Homo sapiens: one gene and its partner. The protein of the gene in region 1 purifies or fractionates together with the protein of each later gene. This does not show direct contact. Each region holds a gene or a part of one and is shown on either strand. Other genes may lie near its edges.

Region 1 (3,500 bases):
GTTCTCAATACTCCATTTAGACTTATCCATTCATTTATCAAAGGTACTATCAAACTTTTATCTTCTCTTAGGGTATTATTTGATTTGTTATTACAGTAACCATGATAAAAACTTGAAATAACCATAACAACTCAAAATCCATAGGAAGACATTATTCACAACAGAATTATACCTCTTCCCAATGGCTTAACTATTACAAATGCTTCAGTATTTTCTTCTTTGGGGACTTAAAATCTGGAACAATTAGAGATAAATCAGAAAAATGTGTGACCCCTGTGATTATCAGAAAACCAAATGTTTTCATGTTTAAAAGATAACATTGTTCATAGTATACATTATCCTGCATAACCCTTTTCCTTCAAAATGGATATTAAAATTTAAAATCCTATTAACCCAAACAGTATCACATTTAAATATATATTGGGCTAATTGTATTAAAAACTGACATTTTTCTTGGAATCAATGTGATGCCATATTTGAGTAAGTAATAAGCCAACATTCACCATAAACTTTCTTGTCTGCCAGAAAACTAGTGTTACTTCTAAACAGTCTACTCACCATTTACGAGATGCACATTCGAAAAATAGCATTCCAGCTAGGATTAAGACAATATAAACAAAGAAGACACACAATTTCCCCTCACATTTCTGCTTCATATATGATTGGCCAAGGTCCTATAGTATGCTCCAAGTTATCAACTAATTTAGCCACAAATCTATGAAAATAATAATAAGTATAGTTATATTTCATATGTGGCTTAAGTGTGCTTAGCACTCTATACGCATTATTAATTTAATCCTTAAACTAGATGAGATAGTTTACAAGGGAGATAAACAAGGCTCAGAGAGGTGAAGCAAGTTGCCCAACAAAAGGCAGTCAGGATTTGAACCCAAGCCTATGATTCCAGGGTTCAAGATCATAGCCATTAAGCTCTACTGCCTTTCCACTAAGAAATATCTGAGAGTGAGGCCAGGTGCAGTGGCTCATGTCTGTAATCCCAGCAAACTGGGAGGCTGAGGCAGGAGGATTGCTTGAGCTCAGGACCAGCCTGAGCAACATGGTGAAACCCTGTCTCTACAAAAAATACATAAAATTAGCCAGGCGTGGTGGCATGCACCTGCAGTCCCAACTACTTGGGAGGCTGAGGTGGGAAGATCACTTGAACTTGGGAGGTTGAAGCTGTAGTGAGCCTTGACTTTGCACCACTGCACTCCAGCCTGAGTGACAGAATGAGACCCTGTCTTAAAAGAAAAAAGAAACATCCAAGAGTGGAACAGAAAACTTTGTTGAAATGAAGTGATCTTTAGAAATGTATCACCATTTTTTTAAAAGTGGGACCAAGAAAGAAAACTCTACAAACTACAAGCAAAACTCTTATCTCCTTTTACTGAATAGACTGTAAAAGCACTTCACCTGTAGACGATAAAGACCATCCACTAATCACAATCCTCTATACCCATGTCCTTACAAGATTTGAGCAGTAACACAACAATATAACAATGTCAGGCCCTGTGAACTATGTCTGGCATGGAACAACAACAATGAAAGTGGGACTGCAATAATGAAAATCAGTTGAAAGATTTAGTGTTTGACTTACTCCATTTACTTTCACCCCCTTTCTTCACTTGCCTTTTTCTTCTTCATCTTTCTCATCTGGAGCAAATTAAACCATCACGTTGTAACAGGCATTCCTCCAATGCTCTGCTGGCCTATTTTCAAAACCATCTCAAACTGTAGAAACCTTTTATCAACCTCAAAGCACTTAATCCTTGACAACTTTCTTCTAGTATTAACTATTTCAGTGGCCAGCAATTAACAAACCAATTTGTATACTATGCTGTAAATGAAAGCAGCTTTAAAGTTAGCAAAAGTGAACTTCAAATCAGTGAGACAGGCAAGTGTGCACAGAACAAGGCAAAGCTTTGACACCATGAACTGTGCTGCTTTAAGTTTGTGGTCCTTGTGTTCTAATAACCTCTAGCCTTTTTTAAAAATTTTTTTAGATTTTTTTTTTGAGACAGGGTCTCACTCCGTCACCCAGACTGAAGAGCAGTGGTGTGATTGTAGCCCACGGCAACCTTGAACTCCTGGGCTCAAGGGATCCTCCTGCCTAAACCTCTCGAGTAGCTGAGACTATAGGCGTGTGCCTCCATGCCCAGCTAATTTTTAAATTTTTTTTTGTTCTTATAGAGACAGGGTCTCGCTTTGTTGCCCAGGATGGTCTTGAACTCCTGGGCTCAAGCAATGCTCCCGCCTAGGCGTCCCAAAGTGTTGGGATAACAGGAGTGAGCCACTGCGTCAGGCCTAATAACCTCTATTCTGAAAATATCATTCCCTAGGCAGGTCCTTCATAGTCACTCTTAGCCATTACCCACCAACATTAAAAACTCTGTAAGAACTCAACACATGTTTAGATTTAGACCATTAGACCAAGGGTAACCAACATGTACCCTTGAAATTGCGCAACAGAGAAAAACATTTATGTCCATTAACTTTCCCACAGGTCATCATGGGAATTTACGGCTATGAAAATGTTTGGGTGTTTGACTAAAAGAACAGATTCGGGCAGTACAGCACCACCTCAGTGCTTTCCAAAGGGTCATCTCAGGGTTACCACAGCTGCCCTTGCAAGCAGAGACTTTCTCTGAAATATTGGGGTTTGCCTCAGATTTTCTATGAATATTGCGTTCTAAGGCAGAATGTATCTGAATTTGTTTAAAGATTTTTAAATAGCTACCAGTTAATGTTCTCCTAAATCTCTGTGTAAAACAGATGCTTCAAGAAAATACAAGCTGCTTTATTTTGTGGCTCCTGGGAGCACCACCTTGTCACCACCCTGCTCAATCAGTACATGTGCTCCACTTTGAAGGACCCAAAGTAATGGAAAGAGCACTAGACAGAGATTCTATTTGTTTAGACTAGCACAATGCTTGGAATATAATAGGCACTTAATAAGTATTTGTTGAATGAATTGGCAGAATAGTTTCAAGGACTAGTTTTCAACTGCAAGAAAACTGCAGAAAAAATCCTTTGAGACATGTAATTACTGGCAACCCCACAAAACCGAAGGAAAAAAAAACAGGCCAGGTACAGTGGCTCATGCCTGTAATCCCAATACTTTGGGAGGCCACAGCATGAGGATCACTTGAGGCCAGGGGTTCAACACCAGCCTGGGCAACATAGTGAGACCTCATCTCTACCAAAAACAAAAGAAAATACACCAATTGTGTATTGGTAAAGAACAAGAAAATCCATGTTGTTTTAGTTTAGTTAGAAAGGAAAAGGCTGTCAAGATGTTATATAAAGATAATACTGAGGGGGGTTGTGTTAGGATAATTAAAACCCAATTCATATCATGGACGCTAAGAAGAGTTTTCAATTAACTCTTGGGTTTTCCTTTGCATGTTTTTAATCTTAATGATGTCAAGTTTACAGAGGAAAATAAAGAATTGTAACGCACACTCATGTCCCCATGTAACCATGCAGGGCGCTGGGGCTAA
Region 2 (3,500 bases), on another chromosome or scaffold:
AGAGGTTGCGGTGAGCCATGATTGTGCCATTGCACTCCAGCCTGGGCAACAAGAATGAAACTCTGTCTCAAAAAAAAAAAAAAAAAGAAGAAGAAGAAGAAGAAGAAATGCACAGTCCAGGCCGGGCACAACAGTGGCTCATGCCTATAATCTCAGCACTCTGGGAGGCCAAGGTGGTTGGATCACTTGAGGCCAGGCATTCGAGACCAGCCTGGCCAACATGTTGAAACCATGTCTCTACTAAAAATACAAAAATTAGCCAGATGTGGTGGCGCATGCCTGTAGTCCCAGCTACTTGGGTGGCTGAGGCAGGAGAATTGCTTGCACCCAGGAGGTGGAGGTTGCAGTGAGCCAAGATTGCGCCACTGCACTCTAGCCTGGGCAACAGCGCAAGACTCTATCCCGAAAAAGAAAAAAAAAAGAAATGTATAGTCTGAAATGCAAAGTCTGGCTGGGTAGGCAAGCTAGTGAGCTGGTGATAAATAAACTATAGCATGGACTCTAAATGCAGTCATTAATTTAGGTCTTTAGCAGGAGGGAGAGGACTTTACCTGGGTCTTCCAAAATGAGGAAGGGGAGAGATTTTGGTAAGTAGAGCAGAATGAGGGCATTTCAGAAAAGGAAAAACATTTGTCTACCTGCTGTAAGGGGACATGAAATGGTAGATGCCTGGGACAATATGGTCACCTGCCCAAGGAGCAGGGGAGTAATAAACCAGCATGAGATACCATCATCTGAAGCAATTTGTGGCAGCATCTCTGCGGTTACCACACCATCACCTCATTACTTCACCAAGCTGTAATTTTCCATATTACTAATGGGGTTGCAAAGAATCTAGTGTTTCCTATTCAGTGAGGGCTGAAGTTGGGAAAAATAAGAAATCTTCTTGATTATTTTTCCCCTTTGGAAATTAGGGGACAAAACATGGATGATGTCATGGTTTTGGTGGATTCAGAAGAGGAAGAGGAGGAGGAGGAGGAGGAGGAGGAAGATGCTGCAGTAGGGGAACAGGAGGGAGCACGTGAGAGAGAGGAGTTGCCAAAAGAAATACCTAAGCAGGACCACATTCACAGAGTGACCGCCTTGGTGAATGGGAACATAGAACAGATGGGAAATGGATTCCAGGATCTTCAAGGTAAGCTCTTTTTCCTTAAACAAACAAACAGAAAACAAACAAAAAAAGGCGCGTTGGCTCACGCCTATAATCCCAGCACTTTGGGAGGCCAAGGTGGGAAGATCACTTAAGCCCAGAAGTTCAAGACTAGCCTGGGCAACATGGTGAGACTCTGTCTCTACGAAAAAAAAAAAAAAAAAAAAGAAAAATTAGCCGGTCATGGTGGTGTGCACCTGTGTTCCCAGCTACTTGGGAGGCTGAGGATCACTTGAGTGTAGGAAGTCCAGGCTGCAGTGAGCTATGATCACACCACTGCACTCCAGTCTGGGCAGCAGTAGGAAACCTGCCTCAGAAAAAAAAAAAAAAAAAAAAAAGCCCACAAACCTCTGAACTGCTGCGGTGAGCTTCCCAGCAGGAAATCTCTAAGGGGTGAGTTTAGTTTTTTTAAAAGGCTGGGGAAGATAGCTAAACTTTAGTCTAGAACCTGAGACTACTATCAACTACCAACATGAAAATCAAATTGACAAACACTTATCAAGGTCCTGGTCTAGGGTAGGCACAATATTGGCATTGTGGGAGAACAGAAAATAGAGACTGGTAGTGTCTGCATGCAGGGAGCTTTACAAGACCAGTTCAGGCCAGGTGCGGTGGCTCACGCCTATAATCCCAGCATTTTGGGAGGCTGAGGCAGGTGGATCATTTGAGGTCAGGAGTTTGAGACCAGCCTGGCCAACATGGTGAGACCCCCATCTCTACTAAAAATACAAAAATCAGCTGGGTGTGGTAGGTGCCTGTAATCCCAGCTACTTGGGAGACCAAGGCAGGAGAATCACTTGAACCCGGGAGACGGAGGCTGCAGTGAGCCGAGATCGTGCCACTGCACTTCAGCCTGGGTGACAGAGTGAGACTCTGTCTCAAAAAAAAAAAAAAAAAGGCCAGTTTAGGGGAACAAACTAAAACCTGCAGGGGAAATGGAAACAGGAGCAAGATTGAACCAACACACTGAGAGAGCAGTAGAGGAGCTGTTGCAGGAAGATATTTGATTAATTGCCTGATGGACAACACATTTAAAAATTATAGGCACGGTTGCTCATGCCTGTAATCCCAGCACTTTGGGAGGCCAAAGTGGGTGGATCGCTGGAGCTCAGGAGTTCGAGACTAGCCTTGGGAACATGGCAAAACGTGTCTCTACTAAGAATACAAAAAATTAGCTGGGTGTGTGGCATGTACCTGTAGCCCCAGCTACTTGGGAGGCTGAGGTGGGAGAATCACCTGAGCCTGGGAAGTTGAGGCTGCAGTGAGATGAGATCGTGCCACTGCACCAAAATTTATAGGACCTCAGAGAAAGATAAGAGCCCGGAGAGGTGTGCTGGTCAGGGGAAGCTTTATGGAAGAGGTAGACATGAAGCAAGGCGTTAAGACGGCTGAGTTGGAATAAGCAGAAAGGAGAGAGGGCGTTTCAGGTGAGGGGAGGGGCGTGAGCTGAGGACATGAAGGGTGACTGGTATCAAGCATGCCTAGAGGTTCTGAATGTAGAAAACAGGTGAAAAGGGGAAAACACACGCTGCCCTACCTTCTCCATGAGATCCCATTCTGTGGCTCACCAGGAAAGGACTAGAAATCACTGAGATGATTGATGACTGACGGTGGAAATAGAATCACACTCTGATTACAAAGCATTGGGTTTATTTCCCCCCATACAGATGACAGCAGTGAGGAGCAAAGTGACATTGTTCAAGAAGAAGACAGGCCAGTCTGAAGAAGAGGATGGTCCATGGTTGTCTTGCTCTGAAAGCTTGGAGAGCTACATTGAAGACGAGCTCTTCATTCAGCTTTGACTCCACCTGCACCCCTGGCGGGGGCTTGCACTAACAATGTTTGGGTCTCAGCAAAAAACAAAACCAAGCACACACATCTTTCCTTCCATGTATTGAAAAACATTGGTTTGATTTGCTCTAAGTTTTCCCAATGATGTTTAAAAGCTTTGAGAAGGAAAGCTGCTTTGGTGTCTGAGGTGCCACTTCTGCTGTGAATCCTGGCTTTATCCAGGTTGATCTACTGTGATAGATGCTGATTTAGAGGGAACAGAGGTCAGGGAAGCACTGGGTCTTGGTGCCTTTTGCCGCTTTTTTTTTTTTTTTTTTTTTTTTTTGAGACGGAGTCTCCCTCTATTGCCCAGGCTGGAGTGCAATGGCACGATCTTGGCTCACCACAACTTCTGCCTCCCAGGTTCAAGCGATTCTCCTGCCTCAGCCACGGCACCTTGCAAATATCAGCTCCTTGGAACAGGTGAAGTTCCAGGTACCAATGCCAATCAGAGGAAGGCAGTTTGGTTCAGGCTTTGGAGTTAGAAACACCTGAAGTTGAATCTGGGCTCTGTTGCTTC

What was found. The genes of interacting proteins can lie anywhere in the genome.
Region 2: the proteins of KLHL13 (region 1) and VSIG10 fractionate together in Homo sapiens (co-fractionation; one large-scale study listed by BioGRID). This does not show direct contact.

Annotation. Positions count from the first base shown.
Region 1 is NC_000023.11:118,106,811-118,110,310, forward strand, and holds part of KLHL13 (kelch-like protein 13), read right to left. Parts: intron 1-3,500. UniProt on the Homo sapiens protein: Substrate-specific adapter of a BCR (BTB-CUL3-RBX1) E3 ubiquitin-protein ligase complex required for mitotic progression and cytokinesis.
Region 2 is NC_000012.12:118,066,012-118,069,511, reverse strand, and holds part of VSIG10 (V-set and immunoglobulin domain-containing protein 10 precursor), read left to right. Parts: intron 1-914; coding exon 915-1,135; intron 1,136-2,817; coding exon 2,818-2,873; 3' UTR 2,874-3,500.